2 separate regions of the Homo sapiens genome follow, and region 1 is linked to region 2. Evidence: fine-mapped expression QTL. A gene starts in region 2. The other region holds a variant in brackets. All regions are shown on one strand. Distances are between the middles of the regions.

Region 1 (9,446 bases), 30 kb after region 2:
TATGGTTTATTTTAAATCTGGCAAGTTGCTATGTTTTTTCTTTTTATCTATCACTTTATGTCTCCTTTAGATCAATTTTGTATTTATTGTGATTCCATCTTATCTTCAAATTGGCCTATTAGCTACAATTGCTGTTTTGTGTTTGTGTGTGTATGTTTATTATAGCACAGTGATTTTGCCATTGTGATTTGGAGTCCTTTTAGGGTCTCTGACACACTCTTAGTGGATTCACAAAGTTAAAATATTTTCATAATAATGCTAAGACTAGGCCGGGCGCGGTGGCTCACGCCTGTAATCCCAGCACTTTGGGAGGCCGAGGCGAGTGGATCATGAGGTCAGGAGATCGAGACCATCCTGGCTAACAAGGTGAAACCCCGTCTCTACTAAAAATACAAAAAATTAGCCGGGCGCGGTGGCGGGCGCCTGTAGTCCCAGCTACTCGGGAGGCTGAGGCAGGAGAATGGCGTGAACCCGGGAAGCGGAGCTTGCAGTGAGCCGAGATTGCGCCACTGCAGTCCGCAGTCCGGCCTGGGCGACAGAGCGAGACTCCGTCTCAAAAAAAAAAAAAAAAAAAAAAAAAATAATGCTAAGACTATTATTTTCTTTTACAGACTTATTCTTTTATAAGCATAGAATGGAGTTTCCCAGAGCCTAGAGATGGGTGATGATGTCACTGTTCTGTCTAATGGAGTATATGCTTGTACATTCTTTTCTTTCAAAGCTTCTTGTTTTGATTTCTTATATGGGAACTATTAATCAGTCTAACTATATAAGCAAAAGATATTTTGCATTCTTAATAATTTTTAAAATTGTAAAGGGATCCCAAAAGCACAAATTTGAAAGCCACTATTCCAGGAATTAAAATATAGATTTTTTTAATCTATCATAGTCTAATTTCAAATAATATTATGCATTTCATGTTTAATATAAGATTCTTAAATTGATACTTCCATTTGTTTTCACCCTTGTGCTATTGGTGTCACATATTTTAAATTTTTACATGTTATATACCCTATAATTCAACATCATTATCTTTGCTTTGGTAGTCAACTGGTTTTGAATGAGATTATTAAATGAGAAAAAAATTCACCCTCATAGTTCCCATTTCCAGTATTCTTCATTCCTTTCTTTAGGTTAATATTTTCATTTGTATTATTTTTCTTCTGCTTGAAGAACTTCATCTAACATTCCTTATATTGCAGGTCTTCTATCCATAAATTCTCTAGACTTTTGTTCATCTAAAGGTCTTCATTCTACCTTCCTTTTTGAAATATATTTTCACTACATATAAAATTCTTGGTTGACAACTTCTTTCTTCCAGTATTTTAAAGATGTGCTGTCTTGTCTTCTGACTTTGCAAGCTTCTGATAAGAAGTCTGCTGTCATCATGATCTTTGCTCCTCTGTATGTAATATGTCTTTTTTTCCCCCTCTACCTGTTTTAAAGCTTTTCTCTTTATCACTGGTATTAAACAACTTGATTATGCTATAACTTGATGGAGTTTTCCTTGTTTATTCAGCTCGGTGATTGTTGAGCTCCTTGGATCTGTTTTGTTATGGTACTCCTGGGGCAGGGTTTATTAGGGGACTGATTTAGAGATGAAAGTAATATTGAGATATGTTACTCTTCTGAGGACCCTATCTCATGTATTACAATATTTTTCCACTTTGATGGGTGGAATGTTAACTATTTTCATTCTTAATTGAGGCCTAGAAGTTGTTTGTCCACTGCTTTTAAGTCACTCTTTTCTCACCCTCCAGGATTTCCTTATACATGTGTGCATATGAGTAATCAGACAAATACTCTAGGGAACTTCTCTGAAAAGGTCTATCTCTCTGTAACACCCTTCTCTTTGACACTCAACCTCACAAGTTCTAGTTCTCTTGTCTTTCCCAAATGTTGATCTCTGTGTCCTCAATTCAGTGTGACTGGTGGTTCTATCTGGGTTAGCTACCCAGGCCTACAGCCCAGAAACCTCCTGAGGCATAAGCTTGGCAATTATAAAATATATCTCATTTATTTCCCTTCTCTCAGGAATCAGAGTCCTCTCTCCATTGTCTGAAAATCATTTTATCTTACAGCTTTTCCTGTTTTCTAGTTGTTTAGGGTGGAAGAGCAACTCTCATAGTAATAACTCCTTTATGGGAAGAAATGGAAATCAGCTGATTTTTCTGCTTCATCTAAAGAAGACATGATTTTGGAACTCTCAGTCACCCACACATTAGTATTCTGTTTTCAAGTCTGTCTTTGTCAGACAATACCAACCCATTCACCACCACATGCATATCTCCCATTAGTACCTTTTGTTACTTAATCTCACTTAGGATATTTCAATTCCCAGGTAACTCAAGAAAAATATAACGTCGACTAAATAACATACCATTTTTATCACTTCCTTTCTCTTTTCCAAGGTACCAAAAGGATTAGAGTATGGTAAACACTCATGAGGATCATACTCACCTTTTCTATAATTACTCCATAGGACACTTTGCTGCAGAAGATGTGGCCTCTAGGGTCAAGAGTTTGAACCAGAATATGGAGTCTCTCCGTGCTCGAGCTGCTAGGCGACAAAATGATCTTGAAGCCAATGTCCAGTTCCAGCAGTACCTGGCTGACCTGCATGAAGCAGAAACATGGATCAGAGAGAAGGAACCTATTGTAGATAATACTAACTATGGTGCTGATGAAGAAGCAGCTGGGGTAAGGTGGGGGTGGGTTTAACATTGTGAATCCTCAACAAACGCAACCAAATTATCAATTTAGGGTTTGCTTAGGTTGTGGGACAGCTACAGATTCTGCCAGATTATTTGGGGTTTCCAGAGTGGTCGCCGTTGGCCTTCATCTGCTGAGACTCCCTCAGAGTTGACAGGAATCCCAAAAGATATGCTACATTTTTCTCATCCCATGGAGATTCATATACTCTTTAGAGATTATCTAAATCAAAAAAGTGTGATCAGAGTCATAGTCATAATCCGATCCTAAACTTTCCAGAGTAACCTTGAGCATTTATAAATTAATCATGGTTTTAAGATAGAGACACCTTAATTACTTGATTAAAATAAAATTGGACAGATATGTTGGGGCAAGAAGAACCACAAAGGTTATAATCACACTTTTTATCCATTTATTTGTTTTGCACATTGTCCCATAGGAAGCTGGTATAGTATTTCACAAACCTTTGGAACTAGAAATTATTGGTATGCATATTTTAAGTTACACTAATGTTTATCCTATAAAGTAACAGTATCAACAGCATCCTCTTTTCAGCTATAATCTGTGTTGATAAAAATACTTTTGCAAGTTTGAGTTAATTTTGATTTTAGTAAACATATTGAAATTATAATTTATTAATTCCTATTTCCTTCATGCTTGCAAATTTAGGGTTAAAAATAACTTTATGATAGATGGAAAGCAGCTTTTACCAGGATTTAAGACAAATAGCATAACCCAAAATAATAGTAGTTGAAATAATAGTGTTCCTCCTATATTCATTCTGATGATCTTCCATCAATAAATGCAGGCTCTTCTAAAGAAGCATGAGGCCTTTCTATTAGATCTCAATTCATTTGGAGACAGTATGAAAGCTCTGCGGAATCAGGCAAACGCCTGCCAGGTAAGACTAACTTAGCGATGACAGGATTCACACTTCCCACCACAAAGAAAAAGAAATTGTCTTTATTGCTGATTTTTTACTTTCTACAACCCCAAAAACAATGGCAAAGAAAACACTAAGTTCTATGACCCTTGTATGCAGGAACTGTAGCATCCACAATTTAGTCCAAAGGAGACTTTGTCCAAAAGAGGTTTTTGATAAATGGTATCATGTCTTCATTGATGTATTTTTGGCTTTCCTCTTTCCTTCCTTTTATATTTCTACCCTTCTTTCTTTCTTACTTTTCTTCATTTATGTCTCTCCTTCTTATCTTTCTTCTTTACTCCCTTCTTTTGTTTCTTAATTTTTAATGCCAAAACTTATTAAATGTCTACTATATGTAAGTATGAATAAAAAATCCTGATTTGCAGGAAAATTACAGTCTATTAGGAGGCCAGATGTTTAACAGTAAGTGCATATAATAGATGTATGAACAGGACAAAGAGTCTCAAAGAAAGGCCTCTTGTGTTCTCTTGAAATAACAGTACTGGAAAACAGGAAAATTTTTGTAAGCTAAGGGAAACCGCCTGATCTGAATTATTAAGGAAAGACAGATGGGTAGTTTACTGTGCAGAGAAAGAGGATAAGCGTTTTTCTAGTCAATAAACCATGAGAGCAAATGCACTGAGGCACAAAACAATCAAGTTTTGTGGAAAATGCAATTGGTTAAGAATGTGAGAATGGAAGATGCAATTGGTTGAGAATATGAGAATGGCTCAGGTACAGGGCAAAACTGGGTGTCATGAAGATTAATTGAACTGGAATCAAATAAATGTTATAACAATGTCTACTATATGTAGTGGTAGAAAAAAAGAGACACACTTCTTACCTTCAAGGAATTCTTTCTAATGAGAGGTTGTTAATCCACACATTCAGAGTAAACAAAAGACGTAGACTCAGTCTGTCAAATCAGTGTATATTTACAGACCTCCTATACTGTGCCTTCACCAGGCTCTGCACAGTGGGTGCCTAAACAAGAACAGAAGGATTTATATATTGTGTGGTATGAGGAAACATGTTACCTAAAGGAGATGAAATTAGAGGGCTCTGTCGGTGGAGGTGCATATTCAACTCCAACCTGAGGAAGGGGTGGGTCATTCCTTAGGAAGAGGGGTTATGTTTTGCTTGATTTCTCAGAGACATGAAATTGGCAGAAAGTAAAAATCAGAGAAAATTCTACCTTAGAATGCAGGCTGCTTACTAAACTGAGACACAAGATACTTTTAATGATCTCAGTTAATGTTCTCAGTTTTTAAAATTCTGTGGCCTTTCCTGTGCTATTGATCACTCATATCTCAAATAGAAGGTCCGGAGCTCCTGACATAGTAACTTAAAGGCCAGAAGGAGTGGGAAGAATTATCACTGGAGGTACAGGGAAAGGTGACGACAGAGAGTGGGTCTTTTCACTTTCTCAAACAATTTTTTGAAATGTTGATGTGTATAATCCTGTTGGACCTTCTTAAGGGAGTACACTTCTTAAAATGTACTCCTCCCATTTTAAGAACTGATGGCTTAGAGCATTTAATACGTTTCTGACAAATTATGTATTTCCTTCCTTGCTTTGGGTTTATAGTTCCCAACCTGCCTGTCCCCGATAAGTGTCAGAATGGAGCAGTCTCTCTGAAGACCACATACTTTAATCTCTGCAGCCACGTAAGAGGTTCCAGCCAGAGGCTCTTTTCTCCTGGGAAGCCTAAAGGACTACTCACCCCTGGTAAGCTGTACAGGGAGATATTTCCAGTGCGTGACTGACACCTGCTTCCTGTTTTTATTCAGCAACAACAGG[C/A]TGCACCAGTGGAGGGAGTTGCTGGAGAACAAAGGGTCATGGCTTTATATGACTTCCAGGCCCGCAGCCCCCGAGAAGTCACCATGAAGAAAGGTGATGTCTTAACGCTGCTCAGTTCCATCAATAAGGTGACTTTTCCTTCTAATCTTTCCATCAAAAAGTGGCTCTTTCAGAACCATCTCTCCCAATCCTGCCAGATATTCATATTTTTACCATCTAACATTTATTTTATTATTTTATTTCTTGAATAACTATAACTGATTAGGTAGTATTTTTCCTGTAGATATTTTGCAGGATCCTACACATATCTTTTGGAATTATAATCCCAATGTTGCAGTTAAAATCATAAAGAATTGAAGTTATATAATTAGCCCAAAGATATAGAAAGTATGAGTGGAAATTCTATAATATATTTAAAGGGCTAAGCTGTCTCTTTCTTTCTTCCTCTTTGCTTGTTCCTCTTCTGTGCCAGTATTTCTAGTGATAAAATAACAATGTCTGGGGTTAGAAGGAGCCTACCAAAAGATGAGTCTTTTGTCAACTTGATTTTCTTTAGATCTTGTGCCTGGAAGAACAGTGATAAAATATTGGTTGAGATTTTTAAATATATTTTTCATAAAAACTGAAGTAATTTTTTATACTCTGATACCTAATTAATCTACAAAAATTCTTAAGAAGAAAAGAAAATAGTTTGGGCTATAGTTATTCCAAAGACAAGTAAATGTTTGGAGCGGCAGATGTTTCATTATCAAATAATGTGTGCCAGTCCATTTTTTCTTTGTCTAGGCCTCTTCATTATTTTTTGAGGAAATTAGCCTCAGGGTTTTGGTAGATGTGGCAACAGTTCAAAAATAAAAAATAAAGTAACACTCAGGTATATGAATGTCAGAGCAATTCACATTTTTCAGACCTCTGCAAGAAGAATAGAAGAGAAGAATTTTTGTGCAATATCCTCTTACACAGACGCTCCACTGCCAAGAAATCCAGCTAGAGCCTGGCTCCATGTGTTTTTTGTAAATTCCTCATGAACAAAGTGCCCCATCATTAAAAGAGCTGTCTTGGGTGTTTGAAAATCTCTCCAAAGTTAAGGGTCTAACATTAGGTATCAGATTACTTGATTTCAGGGGCTTGTCTATGCAATTCTTCATTTCATTTCTTGGTCATATATGAAAATTATGTGCCACTCATTAGACATGGTTAGCTTATCTTTGCCATTAACCTGTGCCTGGGCCAAGAGACTTAGTGTTGAAGTCTCTCCCGTTTGTTGCTTTTCCAAGAATTAATGACGGAGTGGGGATCTGCTCTCCCTTCAGGACTGGTGGAAGGTGGAAGCTGCTGATCATCAGGGCATTGTCCCAGCTGTCTATGTCAGAAGACTGGCCCACGATGAGTTCCCGATGCTCCCACAGCGGCGACGAGAAGAGCCAGGAAACATCACCCAGCGCCAGGAGCAGATTGAGAACCAGTAAGTTCTGGAGCCTGGAGAACTGAACAGTATTTGGTCAGACATTTTTCGCCAAAGGCATTTCTTCTCATGACCCTGCATCTGTTAGATTTGAGATGCCACAGAAAATCTGAAGATTTTAAGAATCGAAAGTAAACCTAGAATCTTTTAAATGTTTCGGTTTCTTTTTGAGGAAAGGCAACCCCAGAATCATTCCATCAATTTCCTGAGGTCATACACTTCACAGAGCTCTTCTGATTCCCTGCCCCACATTCTTTCAAGGTTATTAAAGTCTCCTGACATCTATATGAACTTTGTTTACTATGCCAGGCTTTTCATATCCAATTGTCAGTTACCATGTAAAAATGTCACTTTTATGAAATGGGAAAGGAATGTTGCCAGTCATACTATTGGGTCACTGGCATTTTTACTATTTTTAAATGCAATCCTATGTGTTTATCTTTTTGCCCCCAAGGCTGTTTTCCTTCTAAGTTTATTTCCTCCTCTCTTCTACTATTCTTTTGCTTTTGATTTGTTTTCCCTTTCATTTTTGTTCCTTCTTTCTCTATGTTTGTCACTCAGCCTCTACTCTTCTGTATTTTCTCCTTCTTTTATTCCACTTTTCCCAATTCTCCATCCAGATACCGCTCCCTCTTGGATCGGGCAGAAGAACGCAGACGTCGTCTATTGCAACGTTATAATGAATTTTTATTGGCCTATGAGGCAGGAGACATGCTGGAATGGATTCAAGAGAAAAAGGCAGAAAACACTGGAGTGGAACTAGATGATGTTTGGGAGCTGCAGAAAAAGTTTGATGAGTTCCAAAAGGTGAGAAAGAGGAACCTTCTCTTGAAGGTTGCCATTGTTTGCTTTTATCCCTCAGCATATTCTACATGATCTTTTAATTTATTTCACACTTGTTAAATATTCTCCCCAAAGCTATTGGCAACTCTGTGGCTGAGATCTCCCTCTAGGTATTGTAGTTGCTAATAATTGGAAGGGAAATGCAGAGAAAACTAGTTACCCTAACTGCAGCCTTCAGTGCCTGCCACTCCAAAATCCTCCCTGGAGTGCTGGTCTTCCTGAATTCTTCACAACTTGCCCTATACTATACTTTGTTTCCAGTGCCCAGGTTGGGATAAGGTATTGTTGTACCATGTGTAAAGTTTAATTATGGGGCAGAGTTTGGGGTGGAAGAAGGAAGAACCTGACTTGACAAACAATTTCTAATTTTTTGCCTACCTAAAACCCTTTCAATATTCTTTCTTCCCTTAGATTTTTTTCCATTATCTTAACTAGCAGTGAGTGTACATTCCTTCTTTTCTTTTTCTTTTGATATCTTCCACGTGGGATTTAACACACACACACGCGCACACACACACACAGAGAGAGAGAGAGAGAGAGAGAGAGAGAGCACTCCCTAGAGCTGTTTCTTACAATATCTCATAATATAGGCAGATAATAACTCAGTTAAAGAAATCTTTAAAGCTGGAGTTTGTACTGGTAGAAAAGGATGTTACACAGCTCAGGTATCAATCCCTCTAATGGTATAATTTAATCCAGGGGAGATTTTAAGAAATCTAGAAAAATGGCTGTGCTTCATACTACAGATAAATAATAGTTATCTTGACAAGTTTTGGACAGCCACTAGGTGTCAAGATCTTTAAGGATACTCTTCTCAGTGGTGGATTGGAGGAGAGGAGCTTGGTGTGTATTACGGTGATGTAGGGGCAGAGATGGACAGGTAAGTATGGTAGATTCTTGATGAGGGGATTTACACTGCTTTGGATGAATTTACACTGCTTTGGATGAATTTTCCCATTCAGGATTTGAATACCAATGAGCCTCGGCTAAGGGATATCAACAAGGTAGCTGATGATCTACTATTTGAAGGACTTCTAACACCAGAAGGAGCTCAAATCCGGCAGGTAACTAAGGCTCCCTCCATTCCTCCTCACTACCAGGTTGGGCTTTGGGAGTCCTCATTTCACTTCAACATGGAACTTTATATTCTGCAGACCCACTAGAACATGCAGAAGGTAACAGCAGTATGGAATTAGCTACAGGAAAGGCCAAAGACAATAGCCCAAATAGTCCCTGTATTTTTGTTGTCTAAATTAACTTAATTAAAGCAGGCTCATTTGTTAACATATATTGAGTGTCCTCCATGCCCTCACATATGTCATTTCATGGATGGGGTGGGAAAGGAGACAAAAGTATTGGTAGCAGAAATTAAGATGTAGCTTTAAAAGGCAGGATTAGGAGGTTTAGATAATATTACACTGGACATTAGGTAAATTAGATTTACATCATAGCTGTATTCTTGTCTGACTGTGTGTCCTCAGACAAGTCTCTTCATTTCTAAAAACCTCAGTTTCTATATCTGAAAGCAAATATTGGATAGCACAATATCCAAATTACAATATCCAAACCTCCTCTTAATCTTCTGTACCAGGCTACACCAAATTAAACGTAAAGTTTTTTCCTTACATGTCCACCCAATAATATAATTGAATTTGAACTGCAATTTTGGAATATATACATTTGAACTGATCTAAAATTCT
Region 2 (9,446 bases):
ATCCCAGCTACTAGGGGGGCTGAGTCAGGAGGATCACTTGCACCTGAGAGGCAGAGATTGCAGTGAAGTGGGATCGTGCCACTGCACTCCAGCCTGGGCAACAGAGTGAGACTCCAACTCAAAAAACAAAACAAAACAAAACAAAACAAAACAAAACAAAAACCAACCAACCAAACAAACAAACACTATGATTCTTATACACTTTTTTTTCTAATGTGGTGAGAAACAACATGAGATCTATCCTCTTAACACATTTTGAAGTGTACAATACTGTATTGTTAACACTTATACAATGTGTTGTACAGCACAGCTCTAGAATTCAATCATCTTTCATGGATAAAACTTCATACCTACTTAATACCTATTTTTCCTTCCCTCAGCCTCTGACAAGCACTATTTACTCTGTTTCTATGAGTTGGACTATTTTATATACTTCCTATAAGTGGTATCATGCAGTATTTGTCCTTCTGTGACTGGCTTATTTCACTTAGCATAATTTCATCAAGGTTCACTCATGTTGTCATATGTGACAGGATTCCATTTGTTATTATGACTGAATTATTTCAATTGTATGTACATGCCACTTTCATCAGTCATAGACATTTCAATTGTTTCCATTTCTTGACTTTTGTTAATAGTGCTGAGATAAACATAAAAGTGCAAAAGTGCAAATACCTCCTTACAATCCTGATTTTAATTCTTTTGGCTGTATACCCAGAAGTGGGACTGCTAGATTGTATGATAGGTCTATTTTTCGTTTTTAGGCAATGCTACACTGTTTTCCACAGTGGCTGCACCATTTTACATTTCTATCAACAGTGTACAATTGTTCCAACTTCTTCATATTTTCAGCAATACTTATTTTTCTATTCCTTTGAGAGTAGCCATCCTAACAGATGTGAGATAATATCTCAGTATCGCTTTGATTTGCATTTTCCTGATAGTGATGTTGAGCACGTTTTCTTATACCTGTTAGCCAATTGTATGTCTTCTTTGGAAAATCATCTGTTCAAGTCCTTTGCTCATTTTCTAATTTTCGTTTTTGTTATAGATTTGAAGAAGCTCCTTGTATATTTTGGATTTTAACCTCTTGTTAGATGTATGCAAATATTTTCTTCCATTCCATAAGAGAACTTTTTTTATTGCTTATTGTTTTCTTTGCTGTGCAGAAGATGTTTAGTTTGATGTAGTCCAATTTGTTTATTTTTGCTTTTGTTGCATTTGTTTCTGGTACCGTATCCAAGAAGTACTTGGCAAGACCAAACAGATCACTTTGCTCTGATGCCTGAGCAGCAGCTGAGGCAAGCTGTTCAGTGCTGATTAAACTACTATGTAAAGTACAAACCCTCCCTGAGGTGATAACCATGGCCAGATACAACAGCCCTCCAAATTATCCCCATCCTTTTAAAACTGTATAAAATACTAAATATATAATTCTTATTATATATGATAAAAGTCATAAAGCTTTTTCCTTGTGTTTTTTTTTTTCCAGGAGTTTTACAGTTTCAGGTTGTAATTTAAGTCTTTAATCCCATTTGAGTTGATTTTTGTACATAACATAAGGGTCCAATTTCATTTTTTTATGTGAATATGCAATTTTTCCAACACATATGTTGAAAAGACACTTTTATTTCCTTATGATCAGTTCTGCTGATTGGGCCATGCTATTTCTTTTTTTTTAAAATAAACATTATAGAATTAGTAAGCATTTTTACTTTCTTTTTATTGTGATGATTTTACTTTAGTTCTAGGACACATATGAAGAACATGCAGGTTTGTTACATAGGTATACACATGCCATGGTGGTTTGCTGCACCCATCAACCCGTCATCTACATTAGGTATTTCTCCTAATGCTATCCCTCCCCTATCCCACCACCCCCGCAACAGGCTTCAGGGTGTGATGTTTCCCTCCCTGTGTCCATGTGTTCTCATTGTTCAACTCCCACTTATGAGTGAAAACATGTGGTGTTTGGTTTTCTGTCCTTGTGATAGTTTGTGGAGAATGATGGTTTTCAGCTTCATCCATATCCCTGCAAAGGACATGAACTCATCCTTTTTTATGGCTGCATAGTATTCCATAGTGTATAGGTACCACATTTTCTTTATCCAGTCTTTCACTGATAGGCATTCAGGTTGGTTCCAAAGGGCTAATATCCAGAATCTACAAGGAACTTAAACAAATTTACAGGAAAAAAACAAATGACCCCATCAAAAAGTGAGCAAAGGATATGAATAGACACTTCTCAAAAGAAGATATTTATGCAGTCAGCAAACATATGAAAAAAAGCTCATCATAACTGGTCATTAGAGAAATGCAAATCAAAACCACAATGAGATACCATCTCATGCCAGTTAGAATGGCGATCATTAAAAAGTCAGGAAACAGCAGATGCTGGAGACAATGTGGAGAAATAGGAATGCTTTTACACAGTTGGTGGGAGTGTAAGTTAGTTCAACCATTGTGGAAGACAGTGTGGCAATTCCTCAAGGATCTAGAACCATAAATACCATTTGACCCAGCAATCCCATTACTGGCTATATACCCAAAGGATTATAAATCATTCTACTATAAAAACACATGCACACATATGTATATTGTGGCACTATTCACAATGGGCCATACTATTTCTTTGGTCACAAGGTTATCACATGTTTGGCATTCTTGCTAAGATGATTCTGGAACAGGGAAACAGAACAAATAATGTTGATGGACTAAGAGAAGATTGACTAAAAAAATAAGGAGCAGAGTGCCATGATAATCATATTGATATGGATTTGACTATTTAAATACTTTCAAACCAAATCACCATAGAATGAAACTTTGTTTTTTAGGGACTGTTTTCTCACATAAAGACGGGTATGATAATACCTGCCTCACAGAATTTTTAAAGATTAGAAATTAATGTAAATTGATCATGTTAATATATAAATATTTCATAGATGTTGATTCTTTTCTCTTAAAGATAAAATAATTTCCTCTCCTTATCCCAACTTCAGACAAATATTCCTCAGTGCATGTGTTATAGTGCAGTCTCTAAAATTATGTTCCTGCCTTTACTACTAAATTTGACTTGAATATAATGAAACTATATGGAAAAGTAAAGTAATCCAGACTTTCAAGAAGAGAATGTAAAGGACTCTCAGTTTTTCTATGTGAGATCCAAGAACAGGGGAAACCACAAATGTAGAATCAAAATCTTCTCTTGTAGATCATGGAAGTTAGATTATTCAAGCTGCATTTACACTGGAATGAAGTTTGGCATGGATAGCCCCACTGGCTTGTAGAAAGGTCTAAGAGCATCCCACTATTTTCTTTTTGCTTGTTTGTTTCATTTTTGTAAGTTAGTCTAAAATAACTATGCCTATGGAAAAAGTCTACCTCTTTTTGTTCTCCATTAAAATTAATACATACAGTAGGATGATTTATACCATATATATCAGAAGTCAGCCATATTTTCAACTTTTTTGTGACATCATTGGTTTGTCAAATAAGGTATCCTAATTTTTGTTTTACAAAATATTAATGAACACATCATATAACTTTTTTTGTTCCTTCCATTTAAATGATTAAGAGTACAACTAAATCAGATTTTTAAAGACCAAATTGTTGAGGTTAGGAATAAAATCTTATTTTGTGAAAGACTCTCTAGAAAAAGCCAGGATAATTCGTTGACTTAAAGACTGTGAAAAATCTGCAGTTGAGTTGGATGAAGTTGTTGAGCTGTATTTCCTATAAATATATGGGGTTTTTTTTCTAATTTTTCATCCAAAAACCTTACTTTCATTTTTTAAGTCTTATTGAGTAACTTTGAAAGCCAGAGCCTCCCAAAACTGCTGAGTCACCCAGTATCTGTAAAACTTAGCAGTTGCCTCAGCTGAGTATGTCTTCTAAAGATAATGTCGATTGTGTATGGCTGATGGGATTCTAGGACCAAGCAAGAGGTTTTTTTTTTTCCCCCACATACTTAACGTTTCTATATTTCTATTTGAATTCGACTGGACAGTTCCATTTGAATTATTTCTCTCTCTCTCTCTCTCTGACACATTTTATCTTGCCAGGTTCTAAACCTTTAGGAAAAATGGAGCAATTTCCAAAGGAAACCGTAAGTACATATTTCTCTTCCATGCAATTTGTCATTAATATTATTAGGAAAGATGTTTCCTTTAAACTTTCTATACTATCTTTCCCAGGAACATTAATAATTATTTGGCTTTTAACAAATAGATAATTTTACTTTTAACTATTTTTTGTGAACAATAACCTTGAGCTTATGTCTGTGCAGCACCAAGACCCAGTAATGACTTAAGTCGGTTCCCAGAGAGAATAAGTAGGGAGATTGAAGCTAAATAACACCTAGTAACAACGTGAGTCTCCATGTAATGATCTAATTCTATAGCCATGCCAGTAATGGCAATTCACAGAGTAGCAATTATACTTAGGAGGAATAATGGGAGATTAAAATTTAAACTCTATATTAAACATTTTGGCTGAGGTAAGCTAGGGAAAATGGTATCCATATCCAGAAGAATGAAGGTGAACCCTATGGTGATTTTGCTGGATATTGTCACAAACAGGTTGGCTCCCACTCTGGGAAAAGGATACTTATATATTGTTTTAGAGTAAAAGTTTTTATATTTCAAAAATAAATTGCAGACATGCTAATAATTTGAAATTTGTGACAATTGGGCAGAAGATAGCTGAACTTTTGATTTATAGTGTTTGTGAGTAAAGCAAGTAAAGAGTAAATATATGAGATTTATTTTTAAGTATGAAGGAAACAAAATTTTCAAACTGTTGCATATATCATTAACTAAATTAATTGCAAGCCATTCTTAATTATTTATTAAATTAAGTTAAAAATAATAAGCACTTCTCAACACCTTTTTAGCCCTTGAAAGCAATAACATTATATTTCTTTTTATCTATCTGAAATTATGTGATTTTGCTGATTTAAACTTGCTCCATGATCAGTCCAATATAATTATATCTATAGAACTTAAATGCTAGCACAAATTTATGTAAAAAGTGAGGAGAGTCTTCTGGATAATCAAGAATTTTTAACCTAAACAGAAGCTATGTCTGGTTAAAAATTACGTAAATATACTACAGCTCTTCTGACAATAGTCCCTAGAAACTTCAGGATATCTGAATATAGGTCCAACATGAGTAAACACCTTGACACATATAAGCGGGGCAACATGTTAAATATTTGAGAACTAGCAAGTAACAGAATCTTTTTAACTTGCAGGTTGTGGAGAGCAGTGGGCCAAAGGTTTTGGAAACAGCAGAAGAGATCCAGGAGAGGCGTCAGGAAGTGTTGACTCGGTATCAAAGTTTCAAGGAGCGGGTCGCTGAGAGGGGTCAGAAGCTTGAGGATTCCTATCACTTACAAGTTTTCAAGCGAGATGCAGATGATCTGGGGAAGTGGATCATGGAGAAAGTCAATATCTTAACCGATAAGAGCTATGAAGACCCAACTAATATACAGGTCACTCAGTTCTCTTGATTGCCTCAGAGCAGACCCTAAGATCTCTAGAGAAGGAAATAGGTTTTTCTTTATGTTAATGTTAATGGGTATGTGTGGGTACAATTAGATTCCGTTTAGAAACAAAAATAAGTCAGTGGAGTGGGAAGTTAAAGAAATAAATTAATAGAAAATCTAAAAGTGCATTTTCCCTTATGAAGTTGGAGAGGTGAGACTGAGAAAATAAGAATCAAACAAAAAGCAGCAGTTTTTCAGTTGTTGAAAGCACAGAACTGTTTTTTACAATGAACTTCCATTCAGAATATACATTTTTTAATCATTAACCAAGGATATTGCTTATTGATAAGGGCATAGGATACTTTACATATTTTCATGGTGAAGCATTCATCAATGCCAAAAGTAAAAAATTACATCAATTTTTTTTCAGATCCAGCACAAATATTATGGTAATGTAAGTGTATATCTGGTTAATTGTAGTGGGAGTGATGTAATGGAAAAATTAGACTGTCTGTTAGAAACAGTAATTCTGCCTCTAAATAGTCCATGTCTTCATCTTCATAAACATCGGGGTGTTATTTGCAAAGGAGATTTATTCTGTATAGAATTTGATGGTTACAATACTCATCTGAAATTGACCTACAGGCAAAACAGCAACTGCAAATTCAAGAAATTTCTGACAAACCATGTGATTTTTGATATTTTGGGACATTAAGAAGGGAAATAGGGTGAAGAGTCATCAATGCTTCTGAAGCAACTGTCCTCCACTCTTCTCAGAAATATAAGAGTTAACCAGGTTAACTAAAATCCAATTTAGTTAACCTGGTTAACTCAATTGCTATTCATGGCTCTTAAGTTTTTCCTAAAATGTTGTTCATGGGTCTCAAGTTCTAATGAGAGGTTTCAGTAGAAGTTTGGTGAAAGCTCCTACGCGTTTCTGATCACCTAAAATTATAGCATGTGATACCTGTTCTCTACTCTTCTCAGAGAGATGAGTTAACCAGAGTTTTTTTTTTTTCTTCCCTAAATTGCTATTCATGGCTCTTAACTTCAAAAGAGAGGTTTCAGTAGAAGAAATTTGGTGAAAGTGCCTACCCCTTTCTATTCACCTAAAATTATAGCATGTGGTGTTGTCATAATCAGAAGCAATTGATGTTGGACAGGAAACACCTAGAACAAGAGCAAAATAATGTGCTATATTGAATGGATCAATTTATAGATTACAAGAACAGGCACAGCATGCAAAAAAAACTCTCAATTTTTTTTTTTAAAAACCATTATTATAACTATCATCTTTCTCATTGTGCTCTACTTCCAAAAAAAAATCAGTTATTCCTCTTTTCTGATGAGGAAGGACACTGTGTGTTACACTCTTTTATTCCTATGGCAGTCTATTGAGCCTTTAAAATAAGGCTCGGCATAGATCATAAGGCTCAGCATAGCTCAGGACAGTATTTACTGAAAACTTCCTAAAGCCAGTGGGGACAGGAAAATACTCTTTATGGCCTCTGAGTCTGGGACCCTTTGAGAACCTGTGTTTGGTGGCTTTACATAGAGTGAACATTTCCCATGAAGACTGTGCTTCATTAGACAAAAACTCTGATTTCTAAACTTTAGGGGAAATATCAGAAGCATCAATCCCTTGAAGCAGAGGTGCAAACAAAATCAAGACTCATGTCTGAACTGGAAAAAACAAGGGAAGAACGATTTACCATGGGTCATTCTGCCCACGAAGAAACGAAGGTATATGTATGGGCCCTTGAAGAAGTTTCCAATTATTGATTATGTTATCAGGGTTTTAACTGATTATATGAGATATAAACCTTGAGTGGCTGGCTTATACCCAGGACTCCTGCCTCTTATCTTCCCCTGGGGTTGAGGCATAAAAAATGATGGGATATCTTCGTGTTTCTTGGGGTGAAGAGAGCTGTGATATTAAAGCTGTCATTAAATGGCATAAAATTCCTCCTATAACAGTGCAGGATAATTTGGCTCAAGATCAAGCCCACTTAAACCTGTTCCACATTATCCAGATCAATTAGTTTTTTCCAATGTTCTTTCTAATTATTTCCTCTAACCTCAATGTCCTTGTCTCTTAACTTCTCCAAATAAGGAATGCTCTCTCATTTGAATGTTTTCCAAAATATTTTTCCTTTGTCTATGATGCCTCTTTCTTTTCATACACCATACCCTATGACTACTATTGCACCTCTCCAAACTGTCCCTTCTTATTACTTCTAAAAACTCCCAAATGTCATGTAGTCAGAAAATTTTCTCTGAACATCTAGAAATGAAGATCATCACTATTTCAATAAGGATTCATACTCTGTAATCTATTATTAATGTAACAGCTATTTTTGGACTTAATCTACGAACTCTTCCAAATGTTTGTGCTAATATTGTCAATTCAATTTTTTTGTGTGTGAGTGAACTTTTTACTGTTTATGTATTTTTTTAATTGTCAAAACAAATTTGCATTATATATCTTAAAACTGGGTCTGGCCTTTCTATATATAGCATAAAAATTCTAGCCCATTCTGTCATCAAAATATGGTCAACGGACACAGATTTTAGCCAGAATAGAATCTTATTTTAAAGAAGAACCCATAAAAGGAAAATTTCAAAACTTGTTTATTTGTATAAAGTATAATTAACTTTTGTATTATGCACAGTTTTGCATGTAACCAGCATCTACATTAATTACAATATTTGAGAAATGTTTGAAACATCTTCATTTCTGTCAGAATCACTGGGGCTATAGCAAATGGTACCATTGCGGGGTTTAACGACATATGTGGTCCACATGCTACCCAGAGCAATGGAGTAGTTGAAAAATATAAGATTCTTGAAGATATGACATAGGTGGCAATTTCAGTTATATAAGACAGGTAATACATAATGTTCTGAGTTAATCTGGCATTCAAAGCCCTCTGTAGATTCTCAAACTGTATAGTCCCAAAACACTGTTATTGTTTCGGTGCCAATGATTTCCTTATAACTTATAAAAATTATAGCTCTCACACTTTCTGGCAGACAATTCATGCTAAGTTTCTCCTATGCCTTTGCTATTGCTGTTTGCTCTTCTTAGAACATGTTATGCTTATGATTGACCTGTCAAAAATCTTTCTGCTCCATAAGGCTCAGTTCAAATGAACACTTTTCCATGCTTTCTTCCTCCTTCCCATCTTATTGTTTGTAATTATTCCATCCTTTAAAACTGCAAAGCATTTTTACAAATTGTTCTCTTATGTAAGATCGCATTTGGCTTGGCTTGTTAGCTATTTCCATATATCTATCCTATTTCCTCTTTTAAATGTTTGTTGAGCAACTAATGCATGAGTAACTGAGAGAAGAATTTTTATCCAGGTCTCTTTCTGCACAAGTCTCTGAGTGTTTCCCTGCTCCCAGTGTCTGTGGCTGAGTGGTTTTGCCCCTCTTTCCTAAAGGCCCATATAGAGGAGCTACGCCACCTGTGGGACCTGCTGTTAGAGCTGACCCTGGAGAAGGGTGACCAGTTGCTGCGGGCCCTGAAGTTCCAGCAGTATGTACAGGAGTGTGCTGACATCTTAGAGTGGATTGGAGACAAGGTATCGAACTTAAAACAGCAATCACACAGGGCCTCCCACTCCTCTGTCCCAGGTACCCCATAGCAAATTACTGCAGACTACTCACAAGGAAGTCAGGATGTCTGTTCCTGGCTTTGTTCTTTGGAACAAGAGGAAATTGGGGCCAAAATGTAGGGGTATCTGGAGGTCAACATTGTATGGAAGTAAGTCTTAACATATGGATCTGAATATGAAAAAGGCAAGACTTACACAAAGACCATGCATTGAAAGATAATTAGGCTCATCTCTCTTCCACTTCCATGATTTTTAACTCCTTCTCCTATGTTTTTGCTCTTACTCTGGGGTCTGGCTGAGAGTATTGACAGCTCTTTCTCTAATCCTTTGTGTCTCAGTGC

Direction of the effects. Alleles are on the strand shown, and positions count from the first base shown. SD is a standard deviation of normalised expression in the study named.
With allele A in place of C in region 1, the expression in breast of the gene that starts at base 3,884 in region 2 is higher (large effect, 1.6 SD a copy in GTEx).

The links. PIP is the estimated chance that this variant, and not a neighbour inherited with it, causes the effect.
Region 1: its variant is fine-mapped to the expression of SPTA1 in breast (GTEx, PIP above 0.99). The same link has a PIP of 0.9 or more in lung, spleen, subcutaneous fat and visceral fat.

The regions. Positions count from the first base shown.
Region 1 is chr1:158,650,731-158,660,176 of GRCh38, reverse strand. SPTA1 (spectrin alpha, erythrocytic 1) reads left to right here. Exons shown (of 52, transcript NM_003126.4): 19 at 2,483-2,700; 20 at 3,521-3,613; 21 at 5,429-5,566; 22 at 6,752-6,903; 23 at 7,524-7,710; 24 at 8,709-8,810. Among named protein-coding and RNA genes, the nearest start is that of SPTA1, 31 kb to the left of the region's middle. RefSeq lists a silencer at 1,271-1,471. The variant C/A (reference allele first, on the strand shown) is at 5,439.
Region 2 is chr1:158,681,153-158,690,598 of GRCh38, reverse strand. SPTA1 (spectrin alpha, erythrocytic 1) reads left to right here and starts at 3,884. Exons shown (of 52, transcript NM_003126.4): 1 at 3,884-4,105; 2 at 5,252-5,491; 3 at 7,103-7,228; 4 at 8,932-9,072. The coding sequence starts at 4,082. RefSeq lists a cis regulatory region at 1,166-1,463 and a silencer at 1,823-2,037.